2 separate regions of the Homo sapiens genome follow, and region 2 is linked to region 1. Evidence: fine-mapped expression QTL. A gene starts in region 1. The other region holds a variant in brackets. All regions are shown on one strand. Distances are between the middles of the regions.

Region 1 (4,384 bases):
ATATTTCAAGTGCTCAAATAGCTACATGTGGCTAGCGACTTCTGCATTGGACAGCACAGATATAGAACATTTCCATCGCTGCAAAAAGTTCTGTTGGATAGTGCTTGTCTGGAGCAGGGGTTGGCAAACTTTCTGTAAAGGGTCAGATAGCAAATATTTTAGGCTTTACACAGGCCATGCAGTCCTTGTTTCAACTGTTCAACTCTGCTGTTGTAGTAAAAATGCATCTATAGATGATAATGTAAATGAATGAGCTTGGCTAGAGCCAATAAAACTATTTTTTTGTTTGTATTTTAAGACAGTTTCATTCTTGTTGCCCAGGCTGGAGTGCAGTGGCAAGATTTCGGCTCATTGCAACCTCCGCCTCCCGGGTTCAAGCGATTCTCCTGCCTCAGCCTCTCAAGTAGCTGGGATTACAAGCATGTACCACCACGCCCGGCTACTTTTGTATTTTTACGGGGTTTCTCCATGTTGGTCAGCCTGGTCTCGAATTCCCGACCTCACGTGATCCGCCCGCCTCAGCCTCCCAAAGTGCTGAGATTACAGGCGTGAGCCACCGCACCTGGCCTGAAATTTGAATTTCATATCATTTTCACATCATGAAATAGTATTTTGATTATTTAACTGTTTAAAAATGTAAAAATCATTCTAGCTCATGGGACATGTTAAAACAGGTGGTGAGCCTGATTTGACCTGTGAGATGCAGTTTGCCAACCCTTGGTCTAGAGGAACAGTAAATCAAAACTTAAGGTTTGTTTACTATGTGGGACATCTGATCACTTGAAAATTTTTAGTGGTTCTTCGAGGCTTGAGAACTTTCTCTGGCTGAAACTTGGAGTTCACTGCAGGAATGTTTACCTTCCTTTGTTCCCTATTTTTGCAGTCTAGTTCTCTCCAATGGCAGAGTCATGCTCCTTCAGTGGGAGATGACTACTGGAATGTTTAATCCTTAATTAAATCATGCCTAAGTCTAAAACACTAAACCCTTCTCTGTCTCCACCTGCTAAGTAGCTGAATCCTCACTTGTAACTTTGTCTAGTATACATTGGAAGTTCGCTGTCACCTGGGATCAGTTCTGCCCCTGTACTGTCTAACAACATGACTATTGGTGGACCAAAGAGAGATTATTTTTCCTAGACCAGAAAGGTTTACTTTTATCTTTAGCTATCAACCCCTCCCCCCACCTTTTTATGACCTCACTTTATCTCCAAGTCACATGCTATCTTGAGTGGCACTGTTGAAGGATGCCCCAGGATAAGGGAAAAAAGGTAAGATAAATGCAAAGCAAAATAAAATGGTCAAGGACACAGGAAGGACATAATAGGGGCTAGGATGTGGGAGGCCTTGAGAATTAAGGTAAATTTGTTTGCTATGGAATGAGATGGAAGTCTTAGGAGGTCGTCATGAATAGATGTTTCACAAGTGAAAGCTGGGTGGGAGGGCTCACTTAAACATGGACTGAATGCCTACTGTGCACTAGATAGTATGCTGGGCAATCAGAGATGAATAGCAGATAAGGAAAAATAAAAGCTACAATCCTTAGAATGGTGGGTTGGAGAAGGACAGAATAAGGTTTTTAGATAATAAAAGGCAACAAGATTTAGTGATAGAGGATGGTGAGGGGAAAAGGGATATATAGAGGGATTAGAAATGGGTGCTTTGGGGAGAAAAGCAAGTGGTAATCCTAAAAGAGAAAGCTGGAGAACAAAGGATAAAAAATTAGGAGGTTGGTACTTTGCTGAACTAAGGGGTAAAATGGATGAAACCATCAGGAGCTGTGATTGCTCTTCTGTTCTTTGTGGATGCCCATGTTCAGATCCCCTACGGCCCTTTCCTCTCTGTGGTTGAAGGACAACTACAGAAGAGGTGTCTTCTGTGTTATAAGGTGCAATACTCCCCCCAGAGACCTCTCTATGAGGAAGTCTGATCCAGCGAGAGTTCTACTGCCCACGAGGGGACAGCGTTAGGTTCGAGCTCTCTAATCCAGGTTTCTTTGAGTTTATCTTGGTTCTAACCGGCACGCCGGGTTTTCCAGCATTCCCTGAGCTAAGACTCCCTAATCTGGGCTCCGGGTGAGCGCGCATTCCGAGACCCAGGATTTCGCTCCTTCATCCAGGTTCCGGGTTTCCCCTGCGCTCACCGGCTCCAGACTCCACACAAGCGCGGAATCCGGATCCGAGGGCCTGGCAGTCCAGTGTCCGCGTCTTCCGGGTGACTCTGGTTGTCCCGGATCGCGGCGGCGGCGGCGGTGGCGGCGGCTGAGGGACCCGCGGCCCCGGACACAGCGGCACCGGCCGGGCGGGGCGGAGAGGCGCGGGGAGGGGGCAGAGAGCCAGAGCCGGAGCCGGAGCCGGAGCCGGGGTGGGGTGGGGGGGAGGGGCCGCGGGAACGGATGGCGGCCTGGGCCCCGTAGCAGCGGCGGCTCTACGGCCCGGGGCCCCGGGCGGGCGGAGGTGGCGGCTCCCGGGACCGGCCGCGCGGTGAGTCCGGAGCTTTGTGTGGAGCCGGGACTGGGGGAGGAAAGAGGCGGCGGCACCGATGGGGCGCGGGGCTGAGGGGATCTGATGGGGGCCGGGGGCGGCGGCGCTGCCTGACGGAGGAAGTGGGGGTTGGGGGGGCTGGGGCGGAGCGAGGGGAAGGTGTGTAGGGGGGGTCGTTGCGTGGGTGGGGGAGGGGGCGTCGAGGGGCGCGGGGTGAAGTTCAAAGCGTGGCCACGGCCGGTTCAGGCTGAGGGTAGGGGTGCCCGGGAGGGGATTAGGGTCTGGCTAGGTTATGGGAGCAGGCCAGAGAGTTTCTGAGGCGAGTCTGGGTATGTTGAGGGCGCTCGGGGCGACTGGGGCCAGTCAGGGAGTTGGCGGGGGAGGGGGGGCGGGGGCGGTGGTGGTTGTTCAGAGCATAGGGTCGGAAGCAGGACGTGTGCGTGACCTAGGAGTGGGGAGCAAGGTGGCTGGGATCCTGCAGTAAGTAGGTTGTGGGTGTGTGCCCCTAACAGTCTTCAGGTCACATTTACTCCTGTCCTTTTCTTCAAGATGGAGGGATCCCTGGGCCTGGACCTCAACTGCTATCCTTGTACCCCCGGGAGGGTTTGTGACCCTATCCTGTTTGGAAAACCCATGCTGCCCTCTTTTCCCTTTATGTGTAATTACGGTTGGATCATCTCTGTGCTTTGCTCAGATTCTCCTTCCTCCCTCTGGGGTTGAGGAGGAGGAGACACATCTGACCAATTAATGTGTGTTTGTGAAACAGGCAGCAGCAAACAGTCATTTCAGCTTCGAGGAATTAGGCTCACACAGGGTGGAGAGATCAGAGCCCTTCAGGGGGAATATTTCTGAACAAATCACGGATGATTAAATTCTCTAAGAAACAGCTCCCTACCTAAATGAGAGTGAGAAAGATAGGGAAGAAAGCCTGTCTGTTTCCAGCCATGTGTCCAGAGCCTAAGGGGTTGAGGAGAGTCCCCAAGCCCCTACAGGCCTCCCTTTTCTGTATTAGGCTTTGCTCTGCAGCCTTGAGTTAATTTCACCCCTGCTGCTTTGTCTTGGGGGAGGGAGTGCTGGTTTAGGCTGTTGTGAGGAGATGACTGTTCTGCTGCCACACACAATAGTCGTGTCATTTTATCGGGAGCGCTACCCCAGGGCTGAGAACTGCTGCAGCAGAGATAAACCGGTCCCTCTCACCCGCCTATTGTGTACACAGTGAAGGTCATAGGTTCAAGTCTTGTCTGAGAGCTTTGGATATGCTCCATCTCCCAGGCTCCTCAGTGCCATTTTCTTCCTTTTCCAGACTGGGGCTTGCCATTGGAGGAGGCCAGAGAGAAAGGCTCTTCTTTTTGAGTGAGGAACAATGCAGAGCTCATTGGCACACATTTTTCAGAAGAATAAGGGATGCCAGCCATGTTGTGCCTGCCTCTTTGGCTAGCCTGTACTAAGTTGTGAAGGAATAGTGTCTGGTAGACTCAACTACGATGTTTGTTTCAGACCCTTAAGGAAGAAGACTTCAAGGGAAGGTTCTACTCTTAGTTGAATCATCATATTTAATTCTTTTATATGAATGGAACACTCATGCAGTGATTTTTGTTTGTTTCCGAATACCACTAAAAACCTGTGCAGTGTTAAGATGGGGAGTCAAGCCCAGGTGTGGTGGCTCATGCTTGTAATCTTGGCACTTTGGGAGAATGAAGCCAGAGGATGGCTGGAGCCCAGGAGTTTAAGACCAGCCTGGGCAACAAAGCAAGACCCTGTTTCTTTAAAAATAAAAAATAAAAAAGTCAAGAACCAAGTACCTTTTTAATGGTGGCTTCCTGGTCAATAATAATAGCACAACAAAAAAGCCACAGAATTTGCCTATCTGGGCAAGGGCTGTGGGAACAAACCTTTCAATATTT
Region 2 (4,384 bases), 220 kb after region 1:
TCCTTCCACTCCCGGAGCTTACAGCTTAATCATAGTGGAGAGACACAAAGAACAAATAAAATGCAAACCATAACAATGCATGGATTCAGTTGCCAGATCATGTTCACCTGTCAAGTAAGAAGAGCCATCTGAAGTCAGACTGGGGGGAGGTCCTGCTAGATTCAGCTTGGAAAAGACAAGCTCTTTATAGTGTTTAAATGTTTTTTGTTTGTTTGTTTTTTGAGACGGAATTTCACTCTTGTTGCACAGGCTAGAGTGCAGTGGCGTGATCTCGGCTCACCACAGCCTCCACCTCCTGGGTTCAAACGATTCTCCTGCCTCAGCTTCCCAAGTAGCTAGGATTACAGGCATGTGCCACCACTCCTGGCTAATTTTGTATTTTTAGTAGAGACGGTGTTCTTCCGTGTTGGTCAGGCTGGTCTTGAACTCCCGACCTCAGGTGATCCGGCTGCCTTGGCCTCCCAAAGTGCTGAGATACAGGCATGAGCCACCGCTCCGGCCTTAAATGTTTTTTAACTTGTTAGAAGAAAATGCTCTTATTTAACTCTACTCGTTTTGTTGCCCAAAGAACCATGTGGGGTGCTTCTGGGGTGGAAGGGCACTGCTTTAGCCTCACTCCTTAGAGCCTCCAGCTTCCTACAGCAGCCTAAATAGTCTCAACATTCTGGTGACATTATTATAAAGCACACTCTAAATAGAAATAAGCTTTTCAAACAGAAATAGGAAATTTCTTACCCTTGAGGTGTTCCTTTATCCCTGTCACTCACACCCATCAATATAAAAATCATAGTTGCATTTGTTGAGTGCTCGCCCTGAGCCAGGCGCTGTCCTCTGAGATTTATAGACATTATCTTTTTTAATCCTCCCTATCACCTTAAGTAATAAGTATTGATATCTTCATTTTTGATGATGAAGAAACTGAAGCTCAAAACAGTTATTTATTTGCTCAAGGTTACCAAGCTAGTAAGTCTCAGAGTAAGGTTTTGAGCCCAAGGCTCTGACTCCAGATAAGTGTGATCTTTCCACTTTATCATATCACTTCTCCAAGATGAATCTGAGACCAGTTCAAAGAACAGTATCAGATCTATGGAAGTTGGAAGCAGGAAACAGGGCCATGTTCCTAATATCCCTTAGCTAATTTTTCCTGTAGAGCTCAGTAAAGAAAGGTCAAGCCAACAGTCTCAGCCAAAGACACTATGTTAGAAAATACCTCAGCCTGTGCCTAGGAAAGCTGATGCCCACCCAATCAAGCTCACTAAAGCAGAGTTTCCTCTACCTCTCCCATCTCTTTGACTGTTTGATTTCTCCTTCCACAGGTTCCTACCTGCCTTCCAGCTACTCTTTTTCCCCATATGGCAGCAAGGTCTCAGGTGGTGAAGATGCTGACAAGGCACGAGCCAGCCCCAGTGTGACTTGTAAATCCAGCTCAGAGTCCAAAGCCCTGGACATCTTGCAGCAGCATGCCAGTCACTACAAGAGCAAGTCTCCCACGGTAAGAAAAGTACAGTGATGCTGGCTGTTACCCAAAGACTAGTAAGGCCAGATCCAGGGTCTGGGAGAAGGTGGGCAAGTTCAGGTCCTGACCACAGTGCAGCTTGGCTGACTTGACACTGGCAGCCCCCAGGGCATCTTCTTTATTCTTAGGTATCTTGCACTTTTAGGGGTCATAAGGTGGCACCCTGGGCATCTCACTTGTGTGTGTGTGTGTGTGTGTGTGTGTGGTTGTATGCATATGTGTCTCACTATAGTGCTTTTGTGTCTCTGGTTTCCTTTCCAGATAAGTGATAAAACTTCTCAGGAGAGAGATCGAGGAGGCTGTGGGGTGGTTGGGGGTGGTGGCAGCTGTAGCAGCGTCGGGGGAGCAAGTGGGGGTGAACGGAGTGTTGACCGGCCCCGCACCTCTCCTTCCCAGCGCCTGATGTCCACACACCACCACCACCACCACTTGGGGTACTCATTGCTCCCAGCACAGTACAACTTACCCTATGCAGCAGGTAAGCCTGTTTTCCCTACCACCTGTTGTTTTGTCTTGTTTTGTTTTGTTTATCTTCATCCCAGTAGTAATGTCCACAGCTAGGACCCTCCTACCTGCCTCATAAGAATCCTTTTTTAATTTTTTTTTTTTGAGCTTCTAATCTGTGCACAGTCCTAACCTCCTGCAGTCATTAAAGCATATGATATTTATTCCTCCCTTGGAGTTTGGGGACTCTTAAATTCCTCCAGAATACTGGCCTTGATAGTCAGAAGAATATGGAACAGGTGTTCCCCAAAGGCAAAGAGAAACAATCAGCTGAGAAATAGAGCCTTATTATCTATCTCCAGCAAATATATCTGGCTGAGTATCAGATTTTTTTTTCTGTCAGCACCCCAAAACTCAGGGAAAAAGATTAATGGAAGGTTTCTGTGAGTGCTACACTAACATGTTCTCCTGCTTATTCAGGGCTTTCTTCTACAGCCATTGTTGCCAGCCAACAAGGCTCAACTCCCTCACTCTACCCACCCCCCAGGAGGTGAGAATGGTAAGTCACTTTTATTAATTTGGG[G/A]CAACACATAAAGCCGGGATAGTTGCTACCTGGATCACAGAATCCCTAGGTGAGAAATAGCTATGAGGGGTCAGCAGTCTGGAATCCATGGAACCCTGGCCAAGCCTCTTGTACAAGAGTCTCCCGTGAAGCCATGTGCATCTGAGAGGACCTGTGGAACACAGTGTCCCCTAGGGACCAGTACTGGCCACTCCTACAATTCATTTTCTTGGAGTGCCACCTTGTGGTTTTTTTACCAACAGGCTGAGTGCCTGGTTATCTGTCCATGTTTCCCTTGCAGACACCAAGTGCCCGGATAAAGTCAGCTTCACGGGCCCGGACTGGCTTACCCAAGGAGGTGCTGAAGGTGCCGTTTAGACATCAGTTAAATGGTGTTGATCATCCTGTTTGCCGTTTCCACCATGACTGAAGGCAGACCCTTGGCTATCTCACCTCCACCAGACCTCCGGACTACCTGACCCTACCTCTTCCTCAGGAGCTGGAGAGCTGGTACTTAGCAAAAATATTTATTCTCTCAGCCACAGTTATGACTATTGTGGCCTCTGTGGAGATGAAGGCACGGGAAGCAACCAGGGGAACATGGCCTCAGCCCAGAGAAGCCACTGCTCTGTTCCCCAAGCCCTTGGTCTGCTGCTGGAGCAGTACCAGCCCCCCCGCCCACCAGGGAGGGACCCCCACCCCCAAGCACTGGGTAAGGTCTGAAGACAGCACAGCAGCCATACCCCTCACCATCATTACCACCATCACCAGATTCTGCATCTCCCTAGTGCTTTGCACCCTGGGAATTGGCAGCATGTGGAGGAACTAGAATCTCAGGAAAGAAATTGGGGGTTGTTTTCTACATAATTGTGAAAACAAGGTCTTCAAATGTGGAGACTTCTCCCCATTTACATGAGCACATATAAACGCTCACAACCTAGCCTGGAAAGGAAGACCAAGGCATCTGCCCCAACATGGCCTTGAGCTGCCTGTGAGGCAGGGGGCAGGGGTTCCAACACCAGCACAGGGCTCCCCAGGGACACTGGGAGCAAGCTGGTGCTGGAGCATGAATGACGTCTGTGAAGTAGAACCTGCGTCCCCACTAAGTCCTGCTGCTTCTTATTCCCCAACTCCTTGCCCTTTTCCCTTCCCTCCTAACCCCTTGGTGCCTTTCCCAGGGGGATCCCCACACTGGTCTTGCCTCTTCTTTTCCACTGCTTGGCTCTTAAGCCTCAGGCAGATAAACTAGTATTCCCCCCAGCTTGGGGAACCTTGGAGTCTGCCAGGTCACCTTAGGGCAAGGCCCAGAAGGCAGCCCCTGGGAGCACCCAGCAGTTCTTGGAGATGTCCTGTCATCTAGCCATCTGATATCTTCCTCATTTGAGGCCACAGATATATACAGCCCAATTCCTCTGTCTACAAGTACATGATTTTATATAGCTCAGTCTATAACCTCCATGTGGGCCAATATAAGCTGTGTTTCTTGGTAACACATATTTTGTTTGAGGGGCCACTGGCCATGGGAGGTTATTTGTTCCTTAGACCCTGGAATAACACATCCAAGCCATTACTTATTAGAGTCTCAGAATGTACTCAGTGGAGCTGTGCTTTGAGGCAGCCAACATTTCTCTGCTCTCCTTAGAAATGCAGTCTCCCAATGGAAGCTTTATACTCTTTGTACTGGGAAAGTGAGGATGATTTGGTAGCTTTATTGGGGTCATGTCTTCCCCAAGGTGTGGGGAGCTTAGCTTACTTGGCTTTTGAGGTATCATCCCTCTGTTCTCCCCTCCTATCTTTCCATGACCCTCTGGATTGAGAGAGAGAGATAAAGACTGACAGACACCAGTGTAGGCTGGAAAAGG

Direction of the effects. Alleles are on the strand shown, and positions count from the first base shown. SD is a standard deviation of normalised expression in the study named.
In carriers of allele A in region 2, the expression in tibial nerve of the gene that starts at base 2,220 in region 1 tends to be higher than with G alone (small effect, 0.28 SD a copy in GTEx).

Evidence for each region. PIP is the estimated chance that this variant, and not a neighbour inherited with it, causes the effect.
Region 2: its variant is fine-mapped to the expression of ZNF609 in tibial nerve (GTEx, PIP above 0.99). The same link has a PIP of 0.9 or more in aorta, lung, subcutaneous fat and thyroid.

What each region holds. Positions count from the first base shown.
Region 1 is chr15:64,458,359-64,462,742 of GRCh38, forward strand. ZNF609 (zinc finger protein 609) reads left to right here and starts at 2,220. Exons shown (of 10, transcript NM_015042.2): 1 at 2,220-2,480. LOC105370861 (a long non-coding RNA gene) reads right to left here and starts at 2,229. Exons shown (of 3, transcript XR_932367.3): 1 at 2,141-2,229. RefSeq lists an enhancer at 1,742-1,811 and silencers at 2,272-2,391, 2,452-2,551.
Region 2 is chr15:64,678,869-64,683,252 of GRCh38, forward strand. It overlaps ZNF609 (zinc finger protein 609), which reads left to right. Exons shown (of 10, transcript NM_015042.2): 7 at 1,317-1,492; 8 at 1,778-1,994; 9 at 2,441-2,519; 10 at 2,824-4,384. The coding sequence ends at 2,514. Among named protein-coding and RNA genes, the nearest start is that of OAZ2, 22 kb to the right of the region's middle. The variant G/A (reference allele first, on the strand shown) is at 2,544.